4 linked regions of the Homo sapiens genome follow. The main gene of each other region encodes a partner of the protein of the gene in region 3 in a complex. Each region holds a gene or a part of one and is shown on either strand. Other genes may lie near its edges. The genes, in order: NUP205, NUP188, CETN3 and RANBP2.

The links.
Region 1: CETN3 (region 3) and NUP205 share a complex: the UniProt entries of both Homo sapiens proteins name them as parts of the nuclear pore complex.
Region 2: CETN3 (region 3) and NUP188 share a complex: the UniProt entries of both Homo sapiens proteins name them as parts of the nuclear pore complex.
Region 4: CETN3 (region 3) and RANBP2 share a complex: the UniProt entries of both Homo sapiens proteins name them as parts of the nuclear pore complex.

Annotation. Positions count from the first base shown.
Region 1 is NC_000007.14:135,644,917-135,649,287, reverse strand, and holds the end of NUP205 (nuclear pore complex protein Nup205), read right to left. Parts: coding exon 4,270-4,371; intron 3,821-4,269; coding exon 3,692-3,820; intron 3,131-3,691; coding exon 3,057-3,130; intron 885-3,056; coding exon 732-884; 3' UTR 535-731; downstream 1-534. UniProt on the Homo sapiens protein: Plays a role in the nuclear pore complex (NPC) assembly and/or maintenance. May anchor NUP62 and other nucleoporins, but not NUP153 and TPR, to the NPC.
Region 2 is NC_000009.12:128,999,690-129,006,723, reverse strand, and holds part of NUP188 (nucleoporin NUP188), read right to left. Parts: coding exon 6,919-7,034; intron 5,196-6,918; coding exon 4,995-5,195; intron 4,841-4,994; coding exon 4,748-4,840; intron 3,908-4,747; coding exon 3,749-3,907; intron 3,408-3,748; coding exon 3,270-3,407; intron 1,578-3,269; coding exon 1,503-1,577; exon of another isoform or gene 1,427-1,502; intron 1,422-1,426; coding exon 1,194-1,421; intron 1,080-1,193; coding exon 948-1,079; intron 675-947; coding exon 601-674; intron 486-600; coding exon 356-485; intron 245-355; exon of another isoform or gene 223-244; coding exon 46-222; 3' UTR 1-45. UniProt on the Homo sapiens protein: Component of the nuclear pore complex (NPC), a complex required for the trafficking across the nuclear envelope. Required for proper protein transport into the nucleus.
Region 3 is NC_000005.10:90,392,757-90,399,790, forward strand, and holds part of CETN3 (centrin-3), read right to left. Parts: intron 6,794-7,034; coding exon 6,602-6,793; intron 3,809-6,601; coding exon of another isoform or gene 3,737-3,808; intron 1,352-3,736; coding exon 1,308-1,351; 3' UTR 1-1,307. UniProt on the Homo sapiens protein: Plays a fundamental role in microtubule-organizing center structure and function. As a component of the TREX-2 complex, involved in the export of mRNAs to the cytoplasm through the nuclear pores.
Region 4 is NC_000002.12:108,722,454-108,729,487, reverse strand, and holds part of RANBP2 (E3 SUMO-protein ligase RanBP2), read right to left. Parts: intron 357-7,034; coding exon 289-356; intron 1-288. UniProt on the Homo sapiens protein: E3 SUMO-protein ligase which facilitates SUMO1 and SUMO2 conjugation by UBE2I. Involved in transport factor (Ran-GTP, karyopherin)-mediated protein import via the F-G repeat-containing domain which acts as a docking site for substrates.

The sequences.
Region 1 (4,371 bases), on a different chromosome or scaffold from region 3:
TAGTATTAACCACTATTTATATAGAATTCATATTATATTAGGTATTGTAAGTAATCTAGAAATGATTTAAAGTATACAAGAAGATGTATCTATATTATATGCAAACACAATGCCATTTTATATAAGGAACATGCATGCCAAAACATAGGTTTTGGTATCCGTGGGAGCCCTAGAACCAGTAATCACCAGATACCAAGGGACAATTGTATTGTCAACTTACGTGCAGAAAAGAAAAAAACAAAAAAAAGGAAAACCTAAATAATTTTAGGAAAAAGCTTGACTTTTTCAGACATTTTCACAGTATTGAGTACACTATTCTATAAGAGCATGGCTATATTTTAGTAACCCTGAATATTGTTAATAGTGTAATGTAGCTACAAAGGGTGAAAAAATTAGAATTTTCAGACTATGCCTTTAATCTGGCATTCAGAATAATATCTCTATGGGAAAATCACCACTGTTGAAGGTTTATTTGTTAGATTCCTGATAATGCTGATCAAAAGATAAAAGATCAAAAGATTAACCATACATTTGTTTTGTTTTTTTAAAAAGTATTTATTTTTTACTAGTGAGGATGGAACTAGGGGAAGAAGTTTACAGAAAAGATGTCCATATACAAAGAAAGAAATAGCAAAATATTTTTGGTCATAATTTAGAAAGAAACTAATCTATAAAATGGAGACAATTCTCCCCAATTCATCTCTCTCATAGAAGAGCATAAGCACGGGCTCTCAGTTCCTTGATATCCTCAAGAGGCCACGGATACGTCTGACAAGAGCCTGTATGAAACTATATCGAGATCGAACTTTTGAATATAATCCTTCAATGTCCAGAAGTTTCTTTTGTAGTGATTCTCCAAAAGCGTTGATTGCATCAGCCTGAAGCTAGCGGTGACACAAAAGACATTTTGTTAAAATTGTTGTCTCAAATATTTCTTTTATTCTAAGTCTTCCAATTTAAAACACTTTAGAATTTTTGTAATGTGGTTCTTTCAATGTAAATACTTTTGAATTTTTGTAATGTGTTACTAAATTAACTAAACATTCACATTTTCTACCTTAGAATTTTTTGGTTTAATTCTCATGTTTTTCCTGCTTTCTTTTCTTGTATAAATTTAAAAACCTGCTTTAAATAGCAATGAATGTTGATGCTGATGCTGATATACTAACATACACACAAAAACATTTCCTGAAGGGCCATACAAGAAGTCAGTAAGACTGGCGGGGGAGGGAGGGAAGGAGAATGCAGGGAAGGAAGGGAGGGAGGGAGGACAGGAGGGTAGGTGGGAAAGAAGCTTTTACTTTTTACTTCATTTTGCAATTTTTAAAAACCCACTTGCATGCTTTTGTTTTCAAAAAATATTAATGTGGGGATACACCTGTTATATGCTTTAGAATTCATATATATTCTAGAATGCATATGTAGTTTCAGATGGATCTTTTTGATGTTATACTAAAAGACTAAAATTAAGTACAATATTAGATCAATCTACCTGTTTTCAGTTTTGCATTAAAATCACAACACAGAGTGTGAGATTATTTATTAATCCTGCATTTTTTTCTAGCTTTTTCACAAAGCAGTCTAAATGAAATAGTAACAGTTATTACTTCAAAATATATTTATTTTTGTTGTCCTAGCTACTCAGGATGCTGAGGCGGGAGAATCACTTGAGCCCAGGGGGTTGAGGCTGCAGTGAACTGTGGTCACACCACTGCATGCCAGCCTGGGTAATGGAGTGAGACCTTGTCTCTCAGACAAAACAAACAAACAAACAAACTTCTGAATAATCTTCTTTGGCTAATTTTGCACATGGCCTCAATTAACACTAGTTCTCCTAAACAAGCCTAGCCACAAAACGAATTCCTTTTATAAAGTCACTAAGGGGCGAATGTAGTCTGGATTGGGATGGGAGCGTGGTATTCATGATATCCAGCAAGCTGTGCTTTGGAGGCTGCTGTAACTGCACCTTTCATTCCCAACCTTGTTTTAAGAAAAATAGCAAAAAGAGGGATTTGGGAGGAGCAGAGGCTTTATCAAATCATGGCTAAGGACATTCAGATGGCTAGCAGAGGATCTAGCTGTAATTCATTTTCCCTAACATCACACACCCTGATACCTGCTTTGTTAGAAACATAACTTTGCTATTAGTTTAATATGAGGTTTTCATTGTAATTGTTTTTGGCATACTCTTCATTCATTCTAACACTACTGATCAACAGGTTAGTAAGAGCACAGTGTTGTGTACTATGGTCTATGACGGCGGGATTTGTATTGGCTGCTCTCAATCTCACCATTAAATTATTTCCTGAAAAATAAGTGCTGAGTGATACTTTGTACCTAAAAAGTTCTACAAAGCTAATCAAAAGACATCAGGAGTTTCCAGATCATAATGCCTACCAATCACGGAATGCTTACCATGTTCTAGGTACAACACTAGCAGCCTCACATACATGAAACCTCACTTAATTCTGACAAAACCCTCTGAGGTTGAATCCTCCTATTTCTTAGATGAAGCAATTGAGGCTCGGAAGTTAAGTAAGTTGTTCAAAGTCATATAGCTGTTAAAATGGTCAAGCTAGAGTTCAAACCAGGTGTCTGTAAGCAACCCTGAAAATCATAATCTTATTAACATACCAGGCTTTCCTTTTTACTTACTTACTTACATTCATTCATTTATTTATTTATTTATTGGAGACAAGGTCTTGCTTCACTCTTTCATTCATTTATTGGAGACAAGGTCTTGCTCTGTTGCCCAGGCTGGAGTGCAGTGGTGCAATCACAGCTCACTGCAGCCTCAGTCTCCCAGGCTCAGGTGATTCTCCCACCTCAGCCTCCCAGGTAGCTGTGACTACAGGTGCATGCCACCACAGTATGCCAATTTTTTTTTTTAAGAGACGGGGTCTCACTATGTTGCCCAGACTGCTCTCAAACTCCTGGGCTCAAGCAATCCTCCCGTCTCGGCCTCCCAAAATGCTGGGATTACAGATGTGTACCATCACACCCAGCCCTTTTACTTTAATGAAGAAAAATAAAAGAATATGAGAATAGAACCTTACCTGGTCTAAATCATGTTGGCTCACTATAGCCAGCCCACTTCTAAAATCTAGATTGGTTTCTGAGGCGAAGGAATCTAGAGATAAAAAAACAGAGTCATACCGGCTGTGCAAGTACCTATCTACCACACAGTGGAGGAACCTGATGACAATGAATAATAACAATAGCACCATGAAAAACACGGCTCAAGATTGGGAACTCAATTTTCAACTTTTAGCAAATGGAAGCCCCTAGAAAGCATTTCACTGGTCCAGACCAGGGTTCTCAGCTTTTCTCTATTTCCTTCCACCTAAGGGATCCAATATATGGCCATCAGTCACAGAGGCCCACTCCAGCAATAAGAATCAGCATAATAGCAGACCTCCTCCATTCTTCTAGAGCTGGATCAGCCCCCTAACTGCAGCAAGAAGCTAAGGAACAGCTGATGAGCAGGCTCTAGAATATTCTTATGCTCAGCACAATGTCCCGTGAACAGAAAGTAAAATGCAAGAAATAGCTACGTCTAGTGACTAAACAGCTCTTGATTCACCCAATTCACTCTAAGTAATCTGGAAACAAAAATAAAAAAAAACTGGTACTAGCTTTTCAAGGCACAAATAGGTATTTATGGTTCATTAATTTTTAGCAGAAAGTTTACCTTGCAGTCTTCTGCTTTTAAACAAGGTTCTCGAGGCAAATAAGGAATCTTGAGAATCCGTGGGCATGCAATGTAACAAGTAGTACTCCAGATGGCGCCAAAGAATAAATAGGCAGGTCTCTATGATAACTATACCAGAGCTCAGATTAAAGGAACATAATCTCATCAAATATGTTTTACACACCAGTTTCGGAGGAGAAGAAAAAAGGACAGACTGCACTCACTTAATGAGGTACCCACAGCCTCAGTCTAACAGACAGGGTCTCACTGAAGGCTCCTCAAGAGGAAGCAGCAAGGTGTGCTGAGGAAAGAGGTGGGGACCTTGGGGTCCTGTGCCAGCAGTCTCATGTCCCTACCTTCTTCCCTAACAGAAAGTGCCCATGTATTTTATCAGTATTACCAGCTACTCTAAAAGATAAGAACAAAAACTATGATTTGGAAATACATTAGGCATTTACTGGGAAAAAATTAAGTTTATCTCCTTCCACCTGGTTTTGGTGCCCAAATAATATGAGAATAAGTGAACAGTTCCTATATTTCAAGGTCATCATTCAAGTGCATGATTTCATAAAGGATACAAGAACAAAGGGAAAGCAGTTTAGCTCGATTGTTGATCACCTTCACCAAGCGCCGTCTTGCTAGAACATATTTCTGAGCAGTGGAGATTTTATCAACACCAG
Region 2 (7,034 bases), on a different chromosome or scaffold from region 3:
AGTGTAGGCTGGTGGAGAGGGGTAGGTGGGCAGAACAGCACTGCCCTATCTTTGCATATGCCGGACAAACGCCTGCACCAACTGGATCAGAGGCTCCTGACTCTCAGGGCTGGCTTTGGAGAGAGAGGTGGACTTGCCCTGCGGCGAGGGGAGGACACCAGTGGCAGGGGAGCTGGGGGCTCCCCGGCGGAAGTAGCGCGAGAGGCTGGACAGCAGCGTGCTCTACAAGAAAAAAAGTGGCTTGGTGAGGCTCAGCACATCTGGCTACTGTTCTGACCCTTGGGGGTTGCCAGGCAGGACCCCACAGGGCTCTGGCCCTATTGGTCCAGCCCTCCGTATCCCTATCCATCCGTACCAACTCAGAGCTGAGCTCCTGCTTCATCCGCTGTTTGTCCCGGGGGTGCACAGCCGGGTCCCTAAGGTACCGCATCGCCTGAGAGATGAGCAGGTAGAAGCAGTTTTCCATGGTAAACATCAGGAGGGACCTGGGAGGAGACACAGGTTTTTGGTACTGCTGCAGAGGGCCAGGCTGGCCAAGCTTGAGAACAGTGGGCCCATGACTGCCCCAGCCCCTTATCAAATCCCAGAAAGAGCACTTACTTTAACGTCCTGGTCCCTTCTGCCTGTGTGCTGAGCCCCACTGCCTGGGTGAGGGGCTCCTTTTTCTTGTCCAGCTGAAGAGAAGCAAGGGTAAAAAACTAAGACAACAGGAACAGCTCCCACTTACTGAGAGCTTCCTACTTGCATGTCCTGCACTAAGCAAATTTAATCAGTTACCTCATTTAATCCTCACAGTAATTCTCAGAGGTGCTGTCATGTTCAGTTTACAGAGAGGAGCAGGCTTGGGAGGCTAGGTACCATGCCCAACATGCCCAAGGTCAGCTGGGAAGTGGCAGGCAGGGGGAGGAGCCGGGGGGAGAGGACAGTGTCTGACAGAACCAACTTACCTCTCCAAGCATGTTGAGGGCCACATTCACTGTGGCCAGAAGGGTCCCGAAGGAGGGGGCCACTTCGGAGTCAAAGGTGGGAGTGGTAAAGCTCAGGGCAAACAGGAAGTTGTATTCAGCAAGGTCCAGGGACTGCGAGAAAAGACAAGAGCCATCCAGGACCCAATTAAGGCCCCAGGTAGCTCTCGGTACACAGCAGAGCAGAGCCTTTAGGGGAGGTGGTGCTGAACAGATGATGGGCAGTACCTGATCCAGCAGAATCTGGCAGACATCTGGGGTGAAGTGGCGCAGGGCTGCCAGCGTCTTGCTGAGGATCTTGAGAAGGCCATACTGGACTGTGTGCAAGGCCTGCTGCTCTGATGCCTCTGTGTCAGCAGCGGGCTGCTTTGAGGAGGAGGGGGCAGCAGAAGCAGCAGACGGTGGCCTCTGGACTCGCTGGGCAACAGCTGAGGGGAGGCCATCCCCATTTTTGTTCTAAGGAGAGTCAAGAAATGAAGGTGGAGCTTGGGAAGCTAGCGTGAGGTATTCCAGGACCTCATGGCATAGGACGCTTACCTGTAAGTAATGCTGCAGCATCTTTCGACTGTGCAGGAGAGAGGTACATGCCTGGCACAAGTAACCCAGGTTGACCTGGGAGAGACACAGGAGAGATGAGCGGATTCTCTTGTCAGCAGCCCAGTCACCCAACCAGACCAACCCAATAGCCCTCCATGTAACACCCATGCGCTCCTCACTCGCTGCTGCTCTTCTCTCCCTCCTTCCCTCATGCTCCCCTTCTCTCCCTCCTTCCCTCATGCTCCCCTTCTCTCCCTCCTTCCCTCATGCTCCCCTGGCCACTTTCCAGCTTAAAGCCCCTATAGCCACTAAGTACTCAGGGCTACAAACTTGGGCCAGCAGGGCTCAGGACTGGACTGTCTCCCTGAGACCCAGCTAGGTGCCTGGTATATTGTAAGGTCCTAAAGTAAAGAAGATGAGGCCGGGTGCGGTGGCTCATGCCTGTAATCCCAGCACTTTTGAGGTCGAGGCAGGCGCATCACGAGGTCAGCAGATCGAGACCATCCTGGCTAACACGGTGAAACCCTGTCTCTACTAAAAATACAAAAAATTAGCCGGGCGTGGTGGCGGGCGCCTGTAGTCCCAGCTACTCGGGAGGCTGAGGCAGGAGAATGGCGTGAACCCGGGAGGCGGAGCTTGCAGTGAGCCGAGATGGCACCACTGCACTCCAGCCTGGGCGACAGAGCAAAACTCTGTCTCAAAATAAATAAATAAATAAAATAAGATGAGGATTATGGCTGATTCCATTTTATAGGAAAAGAATAAAAGGTTACAAGTAACAAGTGACTTGGCCAAGGTCATACAACCAGCAGATAAGAGAAGCCTGCCTGGCTCTGGAGCCTGTGTTCCTTCCTCACCCCTCCCTTCTCCAGCTGGTTCCCAGCTCCAGTTGTGTGTGTTTTTTTGGTTTTGTTTAGTTTAGTTTTTTTTTTTTTTTTTTGAGACGGAGTCTCACTTTGTCACCAGGCTGGAGTGCAGTGGCGTGACCTCGGCTCACTGCAACCTCCACCTCCTGAGTTCAAGCGATTCTCCTGCCTCAGCCTCCCGATCCTGAGTAGCTGGGACTACAGGCGTGTGCCACCACACCCAGCTAATTTTTGTTATTTTTAGTAGAGATGGGGTTTCACCATGTTGGCCAGCCTGGTCTCGAGCTCCTGACCTCATGATCCTCCCGCCTTGAATTCCCAAAGTGCTGGGATTACAGGCGTGAGCCTATTGCACCCGGCCATTTTTTTTTTTTTTTCTTTTTGGGACGGAGTCTCGCTCTGTCACCCAGGCTGGAGTGTAATGGTTCGATCCTAGCTCACTGCAACCTCCGCCTCCCAGGTTCAAGCGATTCTCCCAACTCAGCCTCCCGAGTAGCTGGGATTACAGTCACGTGCCACCACGCCCAGCTAATTTTTGTATTTTTAGTAGAGACAGGGTTTCACCATGTTGGCCAGGCTGATCTCGAACTCCTGACTGCCTCCCAAAGTGCTAGGATTACAGGCGTGAGCCACCATGCCCGGCCCCAAGTGTATTCTTAAGGGATCTGAACCAAGATCTAACTGATAAAAGTCCAAATTCTTAACCTACATGGCTGCCCTTGACTATGGAAGGAAACATTTAGCCAGAGTAAGCACATGACAGCAAACCCTGTGCTCCCCAAGGGAAAAGCCCCCGTTCAGGAACATCCTGCAATTCACTAGGAGTGCCCCAGTGAGACCTCACAGCCTCCCTGTCTCCAAGCATTACCCCAGACTCCAAGACACCATCTTGGGCCCCCACCTGGATATCACGCATGAGCTGAGGCAGGTGGAAGTGCCACTCCTTCATGAAGTTAGAGAGCTGCAGAATAAAACCCACGGTGTGGTCCGCCTCCTCCAGGCAGGCCAGACTCTGCACTGTCCTCACTGCGTTGAGGCACTGGGAGGAAAGCACACATCAGGGAAAGATGGGGATGGCTGAGGGACCTGACATACCCACACCTACCCTCCTGTGGAGAGGCAACGTCCCAGGCCCCCAAATGCTGAGTTGGCAAAGAAATGGCTTAGTGGTACAACCAGGATTCTGACCCGAGACCGTTCCCGTCCTTCAGCAGACTAGCTGGCCAGTGAGCCAGCAGAGTACTTAGAGCATCTCAAAAATGAAGGCATCGACAACCCTCCGCTACTGAGGCCCAGGCTCCACACCCACCTGCCCCATGAATGGCCCAGTACCTTTTTTACCCTGAAACTCCCACCCCTGCAATGCAGGCAGCCCCTCACCTGTAAGGTCCGCTCCTGGTGGACACCCACGAAGTCCAGGGCCTCAGGCAGGAAGTTGTAGCGCAGAGTTTTGAGCAGCTGCTCCATCAGGGACATGGACAGGCGGTAGACTCCTGGCCAAGAGGGGGCATCCAGGGACTTCCGAGAGGCACTAGGTGTCTAAGATACAAACAGCAGACAAGCTCAGGAACCCTGCTGAGAGGCAGGACCTCCTTGTAGTACAGCAACTAAGGCAGCCCAGCTGCGCTGAAAGGAAAAGATCTCCCAGAATAGACACAGCCACTGTCTGGCCACCAGGGCCAGAAAGGGGCCAACACCAGCAGATTCAAGGAAAGAGCACCAGGCTGAGACACAAGACCCAGGGTTCCAGACTCAGGTCTGCCACTGACGAGCTATGCGAACCTGGACATGTCACTGCCCTGCTCTGGCCCCTACATACTTCCTCTAAGGGGTAGCTGGGCTAGATGACCAAATACTTCACGACTCTCATGAGAGAGAGAGGTTCAGGTGAAGACTACTCTTTTGAAATTAGGAGGTATCTGTTAAACTAGAAATAACCAAGGGACACAGAGGGCAGGGTGCTGAGGCCCCATCAAGCCCCCAGACCACCCACTTCCCTTCTCCCAGTCCTGGTCTGGTGGTGCAGGGGTGGAGAAGTCACAATGACACACTGTCTTTGGGAATGACAGGAGAGGACAGCTGCCTTGGCTAGAGGCCTGGTCCAGGGATGTGTTATCAATCTGGTTTAGTCTTCCTCACACCTGCAATGGGAAGAATCCATCCCATCTCCCAGAGGTAGTGCACAAAGGCCAGGCGGTGCCTTTTAGTGGTGAGTTTCTCTTGCTAGAGATCCGCCTGGGGGCAGGGAAGATTCCTCACCATCAGTGTATTAGGCAATTTAGAGGAAAGCAACTTCCGGGGAAAGGTAGGGGAGGACACTTTTCAACTGGAACTGTAGGGTGGTCAGGCTGGGCCTCCTGGCAAGCTCCTGACACTCACCTGTGCTGTGCCGTTGGTGCTCAGCTGGTACACACTCAGAAGGGGCAAACAAATGCTCTGGGTGATGCCAGCTCCAGCCACTGCTGTGGCTCCCTGGGAGGAGGGAAAGACAGGAAATGAGATGGAGCCTGCCCCTGCCCTGCCTAGGGTAGGTAGGGCTCTCAGGCTAGATCACAGCTTCTGGGATTGTCAGAACCCACCCAGGCAAGCAAGGACGCTCCCTCCTGCCTTCGGGCTGGCCTCCTACCTGCTGAGTGCGAGCCAGGGTGAGGAGCAGATGCAATGTGGCCTCAGTGAAATGCAGGTTCTGCTTCATGCGAAGGCTCACCTCTAGAGTGGTGAGGAGGGTGGGTAGGATGGGGAGCCTGCGGGTTACCTGCAGCCAGGAGTCACCATCCTCGTCTACCTCACACAGCTCCTTGGCCAGGTGCAGGCCCAGGACACACACCTGCCCAGAGGCAAAGATGAGTAAAAGGGGGAAGAAGAAGAGGAGGAGGAAGAGGACGACAGGCAGCGGTGGGCCTGGTTGCCCAAGACCTGCTTGGTTACACACATTGCTAAGTGAGCTTGAGTAACACAGAATGCACACTCTCTCCCACCCTGCCCCTCTCCTATGTCCAGCTCTCAATGAACAGCAGCAACTCCAGCCAATCTAATGAGCAACCCTAAACTGACCAGAGCTACCCCCGCCTCTTCCCTCCCACCTCCCACACTGCCACCACCCTTGTCAGAGCCACCTCGTCTCATGTTGGACACTCCAACCAACTCTGCCACATGGAGTCTGAGGGACCCCTACGACCCTGCCCGATGCCACCTCCTGCTCTGCTACTGCAACCATCTCCTAAATAATCCTGCTCCATCCTCTCTAATCTATCCTTGTACCAGTGGCCTTTCAACCTTCTTTTTGGCCATGACCCAGAGTCATAAAGACATTTTTTTTGAGATGGAGCCTCGCTCTGTCCCCCAGGCTGGAGTGCAGCGGCGCGATCTCGGCTCACTGCAACCTCCGCTCCTGGGTTCACGCCATCCTCCTGCCTCAGCCTCCCGAGTAGCTGGGACTACAGGTGCCCGCCACCACGCCCGGCTAATTTTTTGTATTTTTCATAGAGACAGGGTTTCACCGTGTTAGCCAGGATGGTCTCCATCTCCTGACCTCATGATCTGCCCGCCTCGGCCTCCCAAAGTGCTGGGATTACAGGCGTTAGCCACCGTGCCCGGCCCATAAAGACTTTTTAGACTGTATCCTCATGTACACGTTTACAGTTTTTCACTAATAATACCTACCCTAATGTCACACAAAGCACAGTGATATTTTCTTAAACACTTTATTCTACTTTATTTTAAAAAAATGCTGGTTGTGGCCAGGCGTGGTGGCTCACGCCTGTAATCCCAGCACTTTGGGAGATCAAGGCGGGCGGATTACGAGGTCAGGAGATCGAGGCCATCCTGGCTAACACAGTGAAACCCCGTCTCTATGAAAAATACAAAAAGTTAGCCGGGCGTGGTGGCAGACACCTGTAGCCCCAGCTACTCGGGTGGCTGAGGTGGGAGAATGGCGTGAATCTGGGAAGCAGAGCTTGCAGTGAGCCAAGATCGCACCACTGCACTCCACCCTGGGCGACAGAGCGAGACTGGTTGTAACAAAATGTGCTAATTTCAAGACTCTCTCTAATAGGTCATGATCCCACAATTTGAAAAATACTATTCAATACTGCATCCAGAGTGATCTTTCTTGGGCACGCCTGTAATCCCAACACTTTGGAAGGCTGAACTGGGAGGATGGCTTGAGGCCTGGAGTTTAAGTCCAGAGTGATCTTTCTAGAGTAAAAATCAGATCAACTTTTTCCCCTGCTTAAAAGCCTTACATCATTTCCTATTTCACTTCGGATCCTGCATTTGCCCGCGGCTACAATCTCTAAGTCATTGCTGAAAAGGCACCTAAGTCCCAGTTCAAGTCAGAAGTGAGACTAAGTTCTCCCTGCACTTCTCTCCTGCAGTACAATGGGCTGCTTCTGCTTTTCTGCAGTGTCTGATCTATTAACCTTTCCCACCAGGCCGTGAACTCCAGAAGTGCAGCGACTATCTGTCTTGATCACTACTTATCCCCAGAGTCAGGCACAGAGCTGGCGGGCAGTGGAAAGGACGGATGGCCTTCTAGGGCACTGTCTCACCCCATCACGCTGGTCCCTGTGCCGGGACCGAGAACAGTCGTCAGTCTCCATGCTGTCCTTGTCCTCTGTGGCACTGCCTAATGCCAGACTGTGGCGGGTCTGGTCGAAGAGTGCAA
Region 3 (7,034 bases):
GTCTTGGGTATTTCTTCGTAGCAATACAAGAATGACTTAATATACACTTGCTTCCTAGATAACTGTTTGAAATGTCACTACTGCTATAGTATTCCCTACTGATTTTGTGTTAAATTTCTAGTGGACAACCCTTAATGTAATACTCTTAAAAGGCTCACAACATTTAAAGCGCCTCAAATGATACTACACTTTAAACTTAAAAATTTAAAACAAGAATTCTAAAGAAAGATTGCTGAAATAGACAACTCAATTCCGTTCCTGGGAGAGCCCATAACACCGAGTACTAGATATGAGTGAAGGATCCATATAGGTACTATTTTTTTCTATGATCGATCTCCATAACCACTTGTTTCCCCCTAACATACACTTCTACAAGGCAGAAGAGCCCACCAGTACTTGGAAACTGTGTCTCTACTATTTCCTGGTGAATCACAGACTGTTCCTTCATATAGGTAAAACATAGACTTAAATTATTTCTGTGGCTTACAGTTTTCTATTTTCATCACTGTGACATGTAATTGAGTGATAATTACCTTAACAAATCAAAATTCCAAAATTTAAATCTCTCAGTCAAGAAGTTAGAAAATTCAAATTGTATTCATTCAATTTGTTTAAGGAAATATTCAGAAGAAAATTAACTTTCATACTTACAATGATACCAAGTTAAGAAACATAATACACAAGGATAAATGGGTCTATCTGCACAATACTTATTCCTTCTAAACTCAAAGACAGGACTCTTAAAAAAGGAATTAGGCTTATATTGAGTCAGCTTGTATTAAAATATAGAATGTCAAAATTGATGAAATGTTAGGTAATGGAAAAATGTGCCACTCTATTGCTAATTGTATTTCAATTTTTGTTTCAGAAACTAGTAAAATTATAAAGGGAAGATTTAAGAAATCCACTCTTGAGGGTTAACAGATACTAGGAATAAAAACAAATTTACCAAACTTTAAAATTCTAATAAAATAAATATTTTATTAACGAAAGTCTGGAAAATGTGTGCACTAAAAAGTGACTATAAATGTTAAATTAAAAAACCTTCAAAGAACACATATCACACATTCAATTTTTAAAACTTTATATAAAAGCTCTATTATAAATACAAAGCTAAACTATCTGAGTACTAACAACACAGTTCATACAAAGAAACTTAACAGTAGTAAAATACAGATATATAAGATGCTTATTTTTGGTCCTTTAGGATAAAAGAACTAAGTTGGTTTTTTTCACATGGCTCCAGGCACAAAAATAGAATATAAGATGGTAACTGCAACATTCTTAGTGTTTATCCTTGTAATTCTTTAAATGTCACCAGTCATAATAGCAATGAACTCCTCTTGGTTTACTGTGGTAAGAAAGAAAATGAAATAGTCAGAAATATAAACATTTTATTTTTTCAGAATCCACGACTACCATTTTACACTAAGTATTTAAAAAATTTTACATTATGCAAAATTATTACATTAAGACATGGCTTTTTGCTTTTACTTCTTTGTTAGGAAGTGGAACATGTTTATTAAATGTAACTTCTTGGATGCAAAAATACATATAATGTGATAAACATTACAAATTAGTATTCTATAATATTAACTGGGGAAAAGATAATGTTACCAAAAAAGTCAATCACAGTCATATTTGTACATACTTGCTAAAACATTTTAAATGCTTGACATTTCAAGGTTCTTTAAACAACCCTCTTTATAATCTTTATTCTACTAGTTCATTTAGCAAATCCTTCCTTTACAAGTAAGCTTGAACATATCATGCATGTAAATTAGATTTCTAAAGAATGAAAATATAATAAAATTATAAAAAGAAGTTAAATTATTATTTTTTGAACTTTTATATACTTAAAAGCCTATGTTAAAGAATAATTAAAACCAGGTCACCATACCTCAAAGGTATCAATAAAAATGGCAATTTGAAAAGATTACAGATGTAATCTTAATCACCAAAGTAATCCAGTAACTATATAGATGTAAAGGCAGAAAATAATCATGGATAAGGACTAATTTTTAGTTTGCCAAAATTATAAATATAGTAAGAATCTCCAATTTATAAAACATAATGTTTAAGACAGCAACCTAGAAATAAGAAATCAGATAATCTTATAGAATATAATTTTGAAAACCCGACATATGCGCACGTATCAATTAAGAAAAATGTTCAGAAGATACTTCTGGTAAGTATTTAGCATTTAGCCCTAAGACTTAATACATACCTAAACAATGCATAAATTATGAATGATAATTTTGATAATGCCAAAAGAAAACTACACTGAGACTTAAGACCTGGTCTCTAGTCACAGCTCTGCACAGAACAGCTCTGCATCTCATTTCCTTCATCTGAAAACACTGAACTATGAGATGATGTTTTAGATTGTTTAACTCTTATTTACCATAGAAGGTATTATATGAAAATACTCCATTGAATCAAACATTTTTAAGTGGCTAGTGAATGCCAACACCACAATAAGTGTTGCGTAATATATCAAAACAGACACCAGGCTTCCTATTCTGGAATACATTAAAACCGAAATGAGAAAGATATTATATGATATTATAAAATTATTGTTAACTTTCTTAAGTGTAACATTGGTATCATAGCTTTATGAAAGATATATCCTTGTTCTTAGTAGATGGATATGCTAAAATATTAAAGGATCAAGTTTTTGTTTTATTATTAAAATTTAATTAATTAATTAATTAATTTAGAGACCGGGTTATGAGACTGGCTAATCGTTGTATTTTTGGTAGAGATTAGGTTTCACCATGTTGCCAAGGCTGGTCTTGAACTCCTGGGCTCAAGCAATCCACCTGCCTCAGCCTCCCAAAGTGCTGGGATTACAGGCATGGGCCATGGTGCCTGGCCTAAAGACTGAGTTCTTGATATATGAAATTTATTTTCAAATGATTGAGAAAAAAATATACACACGACAGGTAAAGCAAATGCGGTAAAATACTAATTACTAAATCTAGGCAGAAGGTACAATGGTGTTCATTGTACTAGTCTGACAATTTTTCTGTTTGAGAATATTCATAATGAACAGTTAGAAAAAATTAACCAATTAAAAAATGTTGAGGAGATAAAACATGGTCATAGGGAATGAAAAGAATATATACTGCACTGGTTCTAGAAACCACATAGAAAACCGGTTTTGATAACTATGTTAGTCAGTTTTTATACTTGAAACAGAACAAATGTTTTATAACACAAAATACTATTTATTATTAAAACAAAGACCAAATCAGTGTTGAAAAAAAATCCTTCACAATGGTAAAAATTATTACTAATAAGAAAAATTTAGGTAAAGGTAAATCATTACTTGGGCTCTAAAATAAAAATACAGAATTTGGAAAGGAAGTAGAAAGAGAGCTGGGGTGGGAGAATACCATCAGAAATACAGTCAAAGAAAGAATAGTGTATGCCTCACAGAAATAAGCTATGAGTTAGGAAAAATGCACCCTCCAGAAGCTGACAGGGAACTATGAAGCCATGCAATCAGTATTTAACATCTACAAAACACTATGACAAACATGGTAAGAACGTAATACAAAATCTGTAATACTCCAAACTACTTTCAAGAATCTTACAAATTGATGTAGTGATCTTTAACCTTTGCAGTTAAATAGCCATGTCTGAATATCTTAGGAAAGCTATGATCCCTCTCTCTTTCCAATAAATACAGTTCAAATATATAAAATTATTAATCAGTTTAGCCAGTGTGCACCTTCACTGAAGAACTCCCGATTTAGACTGAGGCATCTAGACCAAATAGGAAGCAAGAGTATGTTCTTAAGAACTGTATTAAGAGAAAAAACATAAAACAGCCTTAGAATGATTTGATTACAAATCATTTTAACAGTGTAATACATCCATGATTAAAATATTCAAAATCCAAAAAGTACTTGTTACTTAAAGATCTAGAACTTTTTCTTGATCTGTAAAATTTCAATACTCAAACTGCAAATTTTAAGTTTCATATATAAGTTTGAAAACCACAAAACACTTAATTTTTATATTGTTTATATACAAAAACTTTAAACTATAATAGCATTTCAAAAGTATTTAAAATACGGTCAGCCTTCTGTAACCACAGGTTCCTCACATCTGCAGATTCAACCAACTGCAGATGAAAAATATTTGGGAAAATAACACAATAAAAAATAATACAAATAAAATAAAGTATAACAATTTACATAGCATTTACATTGTATTAGGTATTATAAGTAATCTAGAGATGATTTAACGTATACAAGAGGATATGTGAAAGTTATATGAAAATACTATGCCATTTTATACAAGGGACTTGAGCACCATAGATTCTGGCATCCTTAAGCGACTTGGAACCAATCCCCTGTGCTTATCAAGGGACAACTGAATTCCATGATTCATACCTAAAAACACACTACTTAAACCCAAGAAAGTAAAAATTAGAAAGTGGCTCAGGAAATTAAACTAGCTACTTTACTTTAATTGTCTTGTAGACAATTAAAAGACAATCTTCTATATCTCTGTGCATTTGATTTTATAACCTTCTCTATTAACAATATCTTATATCAAGTTCCTATATCTAATAAATCTACCACAATGCCTAGCTTAAAATAAGCTTTGGTAAAACATTTATTGAATCAAGAAAATATGACACTTTGTTTCCTTTTATACTGCCTTCTTTAACAAAATTTTTCATACATCAACCATTTCATAGAGCAAATCTTATTACAAGTTGCTAACAATAAGAATTTTACAGAACTAAGTAGATTAAGTACCTTAGAGACCATCTGGCTTTGAAGGGGAAAAGCAAATCTTAGAATTGGAAGTTCCAACTGAGTATGTTGCTAATACACTGCTTCCTATAATAGCATGTAATTTTTAAAACTCCATAAACATAGAAGTCTAGTTAATATTTTACTTCATAGCCCGAAAGGCAATACAATATTACGTTTAAAAGCACATTCTTTGCCATTTTGGAGATTTGATTTTGAGTTCTGGCTCTACCATGTACAGTATTAGCTTTGTGATAACCTGGGCAGATTAATAATCTCTCAAAGCTTTAGCTTCCTCATCTCTATATATGCATCTATTATACACATGTATAGGTATAATACTATATCTACTTTACAAGTTATTATGGAAATTAAGTGACATAATTAATGCTAATATCCAATATAGTAGCTGCTAAATAAATGTTAAAAAACATCATCATTATTTAAAAGATTATCCATTCTGGCTTTTCAAAACGTTCCTTTCATTTTTTCCAAAAGATGTGCTGTGTTTTATTTTATATATGCTGTTGAGGGGGCAGGGGGAAGTGACTCTTTCTGTATCATTACCACAGCTTTATGTCTATCTTGTAGTACATCTTATTTACCTTTAACTTCACATTCACCATGTTTATTATTCTATATACCCAATATTTTTAAAATTTCATTGCTCTTAGATACTGAAAAGCATGAAAAAGTCACAAAGAGAGAAGAACACTAAAGTCCACAAAAAAGACAGCAAGGTCTAATCTTTAGCAGTTTAACATACAAATAAAGTGGTTTTTATCTCAACAAAACTTAGTTTCCAGCCAAAAGATTCCATATTAAGTGTATGAAAGTATCAAAACAATTTGTTTCTCTAAATGCTATAGGCCTTCAATGGAAGTCTCATGATTCATAGAGCGTTATGGGAAGCTTTTGGGAAAAAGATGGTGTTTAATATTTACCTGAGAGAATGAATCACATTTTAGCAGGCAGAAATTAACAATTAGAGCATTCTAAGATTAAGAAACAGCAGGATGAAACGAATAGCATAAAAATGTGTTTTCAGGATAGCATATGTTGACAAAATGTGTACATACAGGAGGTGAGGGTTAAAGAAGAAAAGTGAAAGAATACACTGGAAAGTAAAATCAGTTACTCAAGGTGGGATAGATCATAGAAGGCTTTGAACTTTACTCTGTAGGCACTGAAGAATCGTTTCAAGTGTCTAAACACAGAAATGGCATTATCAAATGTATATTTTAGGAAAAGAATGATACCAAGAGACTGAAGAAGAGATTAGAGACTTTTATATGCCGAAAGGGCAATTAGGACACTACAAGAGACTGCAAAGTGAAAGCAAGAACCACATCTGCCTTTTTCATTGTGTAGCACCAGTCAACACGCAGGACACTGCACCCAGTAGGCAGCCAAGGCAAGAATAAATGAGGCCATTATAACATTCCTAACTAGAAATTAGGGCCTGAACTAGGACAGCCACAATGGACAAAGATAAAAACAGATTCAAAACATTTGAAGGGGAAAATCAATAGAACTTAGAACTTAGCATGTAGGTTGAGGGAGAAGCCATTAAAGACTGAAATTATATTGAAAGGCTGAAATTTTGGTGGTTTCACCTTCAGAGAAAAGTGAAGGACCTTCTTGAAGTATAATTGGTTTTAGAGATCTGCTTCATTCTAAATTGAATATGTGAATTATTTAGACAGAAGGTCCATTACAAGAAGCAGTTAAGTTTACAAAAAAGTCTTGCAAGTCATTTGGTTTTAGAAAAATGTATTACATGTGTAGCATCAGGAAAACCTGGAAAATACGTTTCACTTAAAACTTACTTTCTCCATCACCATCTTTGTCAAATTCTTCTATCATAGCTCGAAGTTCTTCATCACTCATGTTTTCACCCAATTCTCTAGCAACACGTCGCAAATTCCTCAAGCTTATTTTACCTGAATCATCATCATCAAATAGTTTAAATGCCTTGAGTATTTCTTCATGGGGATCTCTTTCCAATATCCAGTCTGTCACTACAGTTTAAAAACATATATATTTTAATAAACCTGCATAATCACAAAGGCATTCATTTGTGAAATCAACTAAATATTAGATGAGAATTAAAGCTGTGACTGTCAACTTTTAGTCTGACAATAAAATGTCAAATGAGATCCCCAAACCCCGAGATAAACCTGAAATTAGAAAAATCAAATCCATATTTTAAATGTTAACCTTTTTTATCATGAGCAACTTGTCTTATTATAAAAGTAAGCA
Region 4 (7,034 bases), on a different chromosome or scaffold from region 3:
GGCATGGTCCTCTTTTACTCCAACAGAAGACAATTTTTAGAAAAAGTATTTGAAGCCAAACAATTTCTTGCCCTTGGTATAAAGCAGCAGCATGCAGAAAACACTAATTACGGTTTCAATCTCAATGGAATCTAGGCTGGTCCTTAGCATCAGTCTGAGTGATAAATCCCTTATTCCAGAATACACTTAGGAAGAACTACTAAGAACATATTTTTACCTATTTCAAAGAAGAAAATGAGAAAAGGCATTGATTTTAAAAAAAAAATACATGTTACAGTTTGTACTTACTTTTTAGCAAGATCATATTCTTTAGCTTCATAATACAGCTTTGCAAAATAGAATCCTTTCATTGACTTCTAAAAAAAATTAAAAGTTGTTTTACTTTTCATACAGAAATATTTTCCAACATTTTTTCAAAAGTAGTAAAAATCTGTCCTAAGTTGATGTTCAAATACGCCACTTTCATTCACTTAAAAGTTTTTTTAAAGGCTGACAAATGCATAATTCCATGTTTTATAATTTCCTATCACAAAACAAAAAATAGAGCTGGGTGCAGCGGCTCATGCCTGTAATCCCAGCACTTTGGGAGGCCGAAGTGGGCGGATCACCTGAGGTCAGGAGTTTGAGACCAGCCTGGCTAACATGGTGAAACCCCGTCTTGACAAAAATACAAAAATTAGCCAGGCATGATGGTGGGTGCCTGTAACCCCAGCTACTCGGGAGGCTAAGGCACGAGAATCAGTTGAACCCAGGAGGTGGAGGTTGCAGTGAGCCAGAGGTTGCAGTGAGCTGAGATCGTGCCATTGCACTCCAGCCTGGGCGACAGAGCGAGACTCCATCTCCCAAACATCATCATCATCATCATCATCATCATCATCATCATCATCATCATAAATAAGCTGGGTGCAGTTGGTCACACCTTTAATTCTAGCACTTTCAGAGACCAAGGTGGGAGGCTAGCTTTGAGGCCAAGAGTTTGAAACCAGCCTGTGCAACACAACAAGATCCTGTCTCCAGGGAGAAAAAAATAGCCAGGCATAGTGGAGCATGCCTGTGTTCCTAGCTACTCAGGAGGCCAAGGAAGGAGAATCACTTGAGCCCAGGAGGTTGACACTGCCGTGAGTTATGACTGTGACACTGCACTCCAGCGTGGGTGACACAGGGAGATCCTCTCTCTAAATAATAAATACATAACATACAAAAAATAAATTCAAGAAAGTAAGACAAGCAGACAACAGAAGAATTTTCATCAGCCTTGGAAATCTTGGAAACCCTGTGGTACCACTCTCTCACTTAACAAACAAAAGAAACCAGCTTTCTTTGGGGAGGAAAGGTATTCCAGAAATCTCTTTTCCTACCATGTGTAAGCCTCTATGGGAAAGAATAAGTAAGTACTTAGGATCTATTAAGGCACTGAGGATTCCCTGGTCCATGTACTGTTCTCTCTACAGATCAGATCAGTATTTTACAGTCAAGGAGTCAAAAAGGCAGAAATAAATATTGAATTCTTCAAGTAATAAACGAGGTCCACAGCCTGGCTCCTTGGTTACATAAACTCCAAAGTCCAAAATGCTGATGCACACCAGGCTGGGTGCGGTGGCTCACACCTGTAATCCCAGCACTTTCGGAGACCGAGGCGGGCGGATCACCTGAAGCCAAGAGTTCGAGACCAGCCTGGCCAACATGCAGAAACCTCCTTTCTACTAAAAATACAAAAATTAGCTGGGCATGGTGGCACACCCCTGTAATCCCCACTGCTTGGGAGGCTGAGGCAAAGAATCGCTTGAATCCGGGAGGCAGAGGCTGCAGTGGGCCAAGATCGCACCACTGCACTCCAGCGTGGGCAACAGAATGATTCCATCTCAAAAAAAAAAAAAAAAAAAATGCTGATACAACCAGAGTATGTTCCATCCATGTGATAAAGAGTATACAGCTACTCAAACATCTTATTTTTGAAATTCCAAGACCCCAGTGAATGTCCAAAACGATGAATAGTATCAAACCAGGTTGCCGTCAATCGAAACATGTTTCCTGTTTGTGTCCTCCACCCACAAATTTAATGTCTTGTCCATCTCAACTAAGCACTTATCACACACTATGGCTGTAACTTTTGCAGTTTGGGGTGTCACAACAAAACTAGCACAAATTTCTTTTTCCTTCTTCACAATTTCATGGACAAAAGATTTGTTCTTACCATAGATCTTAGCAACTCCAGTATATGATCTTTTTTCTTTCCTAAGTCAAAAACTCACCTCTTCTGAGGGGCGCCTCTGCCCGGCCGCCCCTACTGGGAAGTGAGGAGCCCCTCTGCCCGGCCACCACCCCGTCTGGGAGGTGTACTCAACAGCTCATTGAGAACGGGCCATGATGACAATGGCGGTTTTGTGGAATAGAAAGGCGGGAAAGGTGGGGAAAAGATTGAGAAATCGGATGGTTGCCGTGTCTGTGTAGAAAGAAGTAGACATGGGAGACTTTTCATTTTGTTCTGCACTAAGAAAAATTCTTCTGCCTTGGGATCTTGTTGATCTGTGACCTTACCCCCAACCCTGTGCTCTCTGAAACATGTGCTGTGTCCACCCAGGGTTAAATGGATTAAGGGCGGTGCAAGATGTGCTTTGTTAAACAGATGCTTGAAGGCAGCATGCTCGTTAAGAGTCATCACCACTCCCTAATCTCAAGTAATCAGGGACACAAACACTGCGGAAGGCTGCAGGGTCCTCTGCCTAGGAAAACCAGAGACCTTTGTTCACTTGTTTATCTGCTGACCTTCCCTCCACTATTGTCCCATGACCCTGCCAAATCCCCCTCTGTGAGAAACACCCAAGAATTATCAATAAAAAAATAAATTAAAAAAATAATAATAATAAAAAGCAAGGTGAGACTACAGTACTCTCCCTCTGCCATGTGAGGACAAGATGCCAGCCAACCTATAAGCCAGGAAGAAAGCCCTCATCAGGAACCAAAGCAGCAGCACCCTGATCTGCCGCTTCTAGCCTCCAGAACCATGAGAAAATAAATTTCTGTTGTTTAAGCCAAAAAAAAAAAAAAACAAAAAAACTCACCTCTTCACTTAAAGGAAGCACTATATGGCTTCTCTCTGCATATGTGAACTGCCAGCATCGCTACTCTTGCTCTTTGGTGCCATTTTAAATAAAATAAAGGTTACTTGAACACAAGCACTGCAATACTCCAACAACTGATCTGATAACTGAGATGACTAGTATGTAACTAGCGGGTGGCGAGCACATACAGCATGAATATGTCGGACAAAGGGATGACTTGTGTCCTAGGTAGGACGGAGCAGGAGGCCGTGAGATTTTTACCATGTTATTCAGAACCGTTTGCAATTTAAAACTCATGAAATGTTTATTTATATAATCTTCCATTCAATATTTTTGGACCACGGGTGACACAGCTAAGTAAAACCACGTAAGGCAATACTGTGGATAAGAAGGGACTACTGTACCAGCAACGAACAATCAGAAAAGGAAATTAAGAAAGCAATTCCATTTACAATCGCATCTAAAAGAAAAAAATGCCTGGGAATAAATGTAAACAAGGAGGTGAGAGACTTGTATGCTTAAATTACAAAACGTTGCTCAATGCCAGGCTAACACCTGCAATCCCAGCACTGGCGACAGAGCAAGCCTCCGTCTCAAAAAAAAAAAGAACTACAGCAATCTTAACAAAAATAATACACAGCAGTCAGGACAGCACGTAAAGGAACAAGGCTTGTTCCCCCCTTCCTTTTTTTTTTTGAGATGGAGTCTTGCTCTGTCGCCAGGCTGCAGTGCAGTGGCTCGATCTCAGCTCACTGCAACCTCTGCCTCCCGGGTACAAGCTGGGACTACAGGCGCACGCCACCATGCCCAGCTAATTTTTGTATTTTTAGTAGAGATGGGGTTTCACCATGTTGGCCAAGATGGTCTCGATCTCTTGACCTTGTGATCTGACTTCCTCCACCTCCCAAAGTGCTGGGATTACAGGCGTCAGCCATTGAGCCCAGCCAGTTCCCCCTTTTCAAAATGAAGAAATAGATTCAAGGTACAATGCCAAAACATAATAGAAAAATAATTCCATTACCTTCTTTGCTTCCAACTATGTTATTAAAGTAGACAATCTTAAGATAATTAAACAACTTTACAAATTATTCTTCTATATGATCTTTTGCCTCTAACCTGCTCACTTTACAAGGGAACTGAAGCTCAAGCAGGTAAATGCCTTGTTTAAAGATACACAGCTAGGAAGGAGCACAGCCCATGTTATGTAAACAGGACAATATCTGATGCAAGCAGTACTTCTTTACATGACAGCAGATGTCACTATAAGCAAATACCTGAATTCACTTAAGCTGCCAAATATCAAGAACTGATGCAGGGCTGAAAACAGGAACAGTAAGACCCTAAGAGATGCCACATCATCTCTATCTTGCACAGTAAGATAGAGATGTAATTGTAATTGTCCAAAACTTAATATTTGTGGCCTACTTTTTCACTATGCAGTTCTAAATTTTTTTTTTAATTCAGATGGAGTCTCACTCTGTCGCCCATCTTGCACAGTCAAATGAATCTCCCTCCCCCTAAAATCCTCCAAAAACCCATCTGATCAGCTGTTCTCAACAAACCCATCTGATCAGCTCCAAATCTGTGGAGTCCCAACAAGGGTGAAGGCCGCGATTATACAGGACAATGAGGAAAAGTCTAGATACTGAACCATGAGTTCCCCAATCTTCTTCCCCTGGAACATAAGGGTAAGGAAATCTCTCAAAAGGCAGAACAAACAAAAGAGGAGAATAAGAGAAAAATTAGAGAAACTCCAGCTTTCAGGTAAACGTCATTAAAAAAAGGGTAAGAAATGGTCAAAGAAATAATACAAGAAATGCTACAGAACTGAAAGAAATGAGTTTCCCAATTGAAAGGACACTTCCAGAAAACCTTTAAGTTACCAAGAACAAGAATCTCATCGGACTCCTAACAACAGAACTTCTAGAAAATGGAGCAATGCTTTCAAAATTGCGAAAAAAAAATTATTTCAAACTCAGAATTCGATAACCAAATGATCAACTAAATTAAGTAAAGACATTTTAAAGACATACCATTAGTTTCAAGACCAGCCTGACCAACATGGTGAAATCCCATCTCTACTAAAAATAGAAAAAATTAGCCGGGCATGGTGGCACACACCTGTAATCCCACTACTCAGGAGGCTGAGGCAGGAGAATCGCTTGAACCCGGGAGGCGGAAGTTGCAGTGAGCTGAGACCATGCCACTGCACTCCAGCCTGGGCAACAGAGCAAGACTCTGTCCCAAAACAAAAACAAACAAACAAAAAAACCTCTCATCTACTTTTCCTCAAAGCAAGTGAGACTATGCTACACCAAAACAAAGAAAGTAAATGAAGAGGACATGAGATACAAGAAACAAAGGGTCTAACTCAGAAAAAAGATGAAAGGAATTCTCAAACTGATGATAAAGGGAAGTCCCAAGAGCACAGCTGTGTAGCAAAGAGGAAGAAAAACCAATCCTGGTTGGAGAAGTCAGTTAGTAAGGGTATTCCAGGTAGACAGACAATCAATCAATCAATCAATCAATCAATGTTTTAAGCTGCAATTGATGGGATTATGTGACCAGTTTGACCACATTTGAGGGTGTAAATTGCTGAGTTTAAGTAAGCAAGTAGTAACACAACATACAAGCAAACCAAAAAATAAAGCAATTATTCAGTCCAGGAAAAACAAAACCGCACAACAAGGGCAATTCAAATGCAAAAATATTTACCTTATATTTATATAAATGTTAAATATTCATTTAAACAAAAACTGCAATAACAGTACTGAAAGAATGAGGGGCAAACCAAAGTGTCTGAGGACAGTTTTGGAGGAGCATAATAACCAGTACAGAATGTCTAAAATGGGGCCCGGCGCGGTGGCTCACGCCTGTAACCCCGGCACTTTGGGAGGCTGAGGCGGGCGGATCATGAGGTCAGGAGATCGAGACTATCCTGGCTAACACGGTGAAACCCCGTCTCTACTAAAAATACTAAAAAATTAGCCGGGTGTGGTGGCGGGTGCCTGTAGTCCCAGCTACAGGCTGGGGCAGGAGAATGGTGTGAACCCGGGAGGCAGAGTTTGCAGTGAGCCGAGATCGCGCCACTGCACTCCAGCCTGGACGATAGAGCGAGTCTCCGTCTCAAAAAAAAAAAAAAGAAAAGAAAATGTCTAAAATGGGAGAAAGGAAATTAAAAATAACAAAAGTATATATGTGTGTTACTCAGAAGTATGAAGTATAGCTGTAAAGGGCAGAAAAAACAACTAACAGCTGTCAAAGGTGCCTGCCTGTAGTCCTAAGTACTCAGGAAACAGAGGTAGGTGGATCATTTACGCCCAAAAATTTGATGGCAGCCTGGGCAACACAGCAAGACCCTATTCTAAAAAACAAATAAATAAAAATAAGAGCTGTCAAGTAGACTTTGAGAAGTAGGAATCAGCTGCAGAATAAGAAATCAACTTGACAGAACATAGAAAAACTAAACAGAAGCCATCTGGAAAAAGAAAAACTAGAGAAAGAATTATATTTTTTTTTCTTTTTTTCTTTTTTGGAGACAGAGTCTCGCTCTGTCACACAGGCTGGAGTGCAGTGGTGCAATCTCTGCTCACCACAACCTCTGCCTCCAGGGTTCAAGCAATTCTCCTGTCTCAGCCTACCGAGTAGGTGGGACTACAGGCGCTGCCACCACGCCCGGCTCATTTTTGTATTTTTAATAGAGACGGATTTTCACCATATTGGTCAGGCTGGTCTCTCGGCCTCCCAAAGTGCTCAGATTACAGACGAAGAATATTTTTAAGGGCAAAAGCACATGTGAGGGAGTAGAAAAATGGCAAAACAAGAGAAGACTAACAAATGAAAGCACAATGAAAGACTAGAAAGATATGATATACAGACGCATCATCACACTCCAAAACTCCGACATTCTAGAAAGCATGGGCAGTTCACAGATGGCCAGCCTCTGCCAAACTGGGGGAGAATACTAACCTC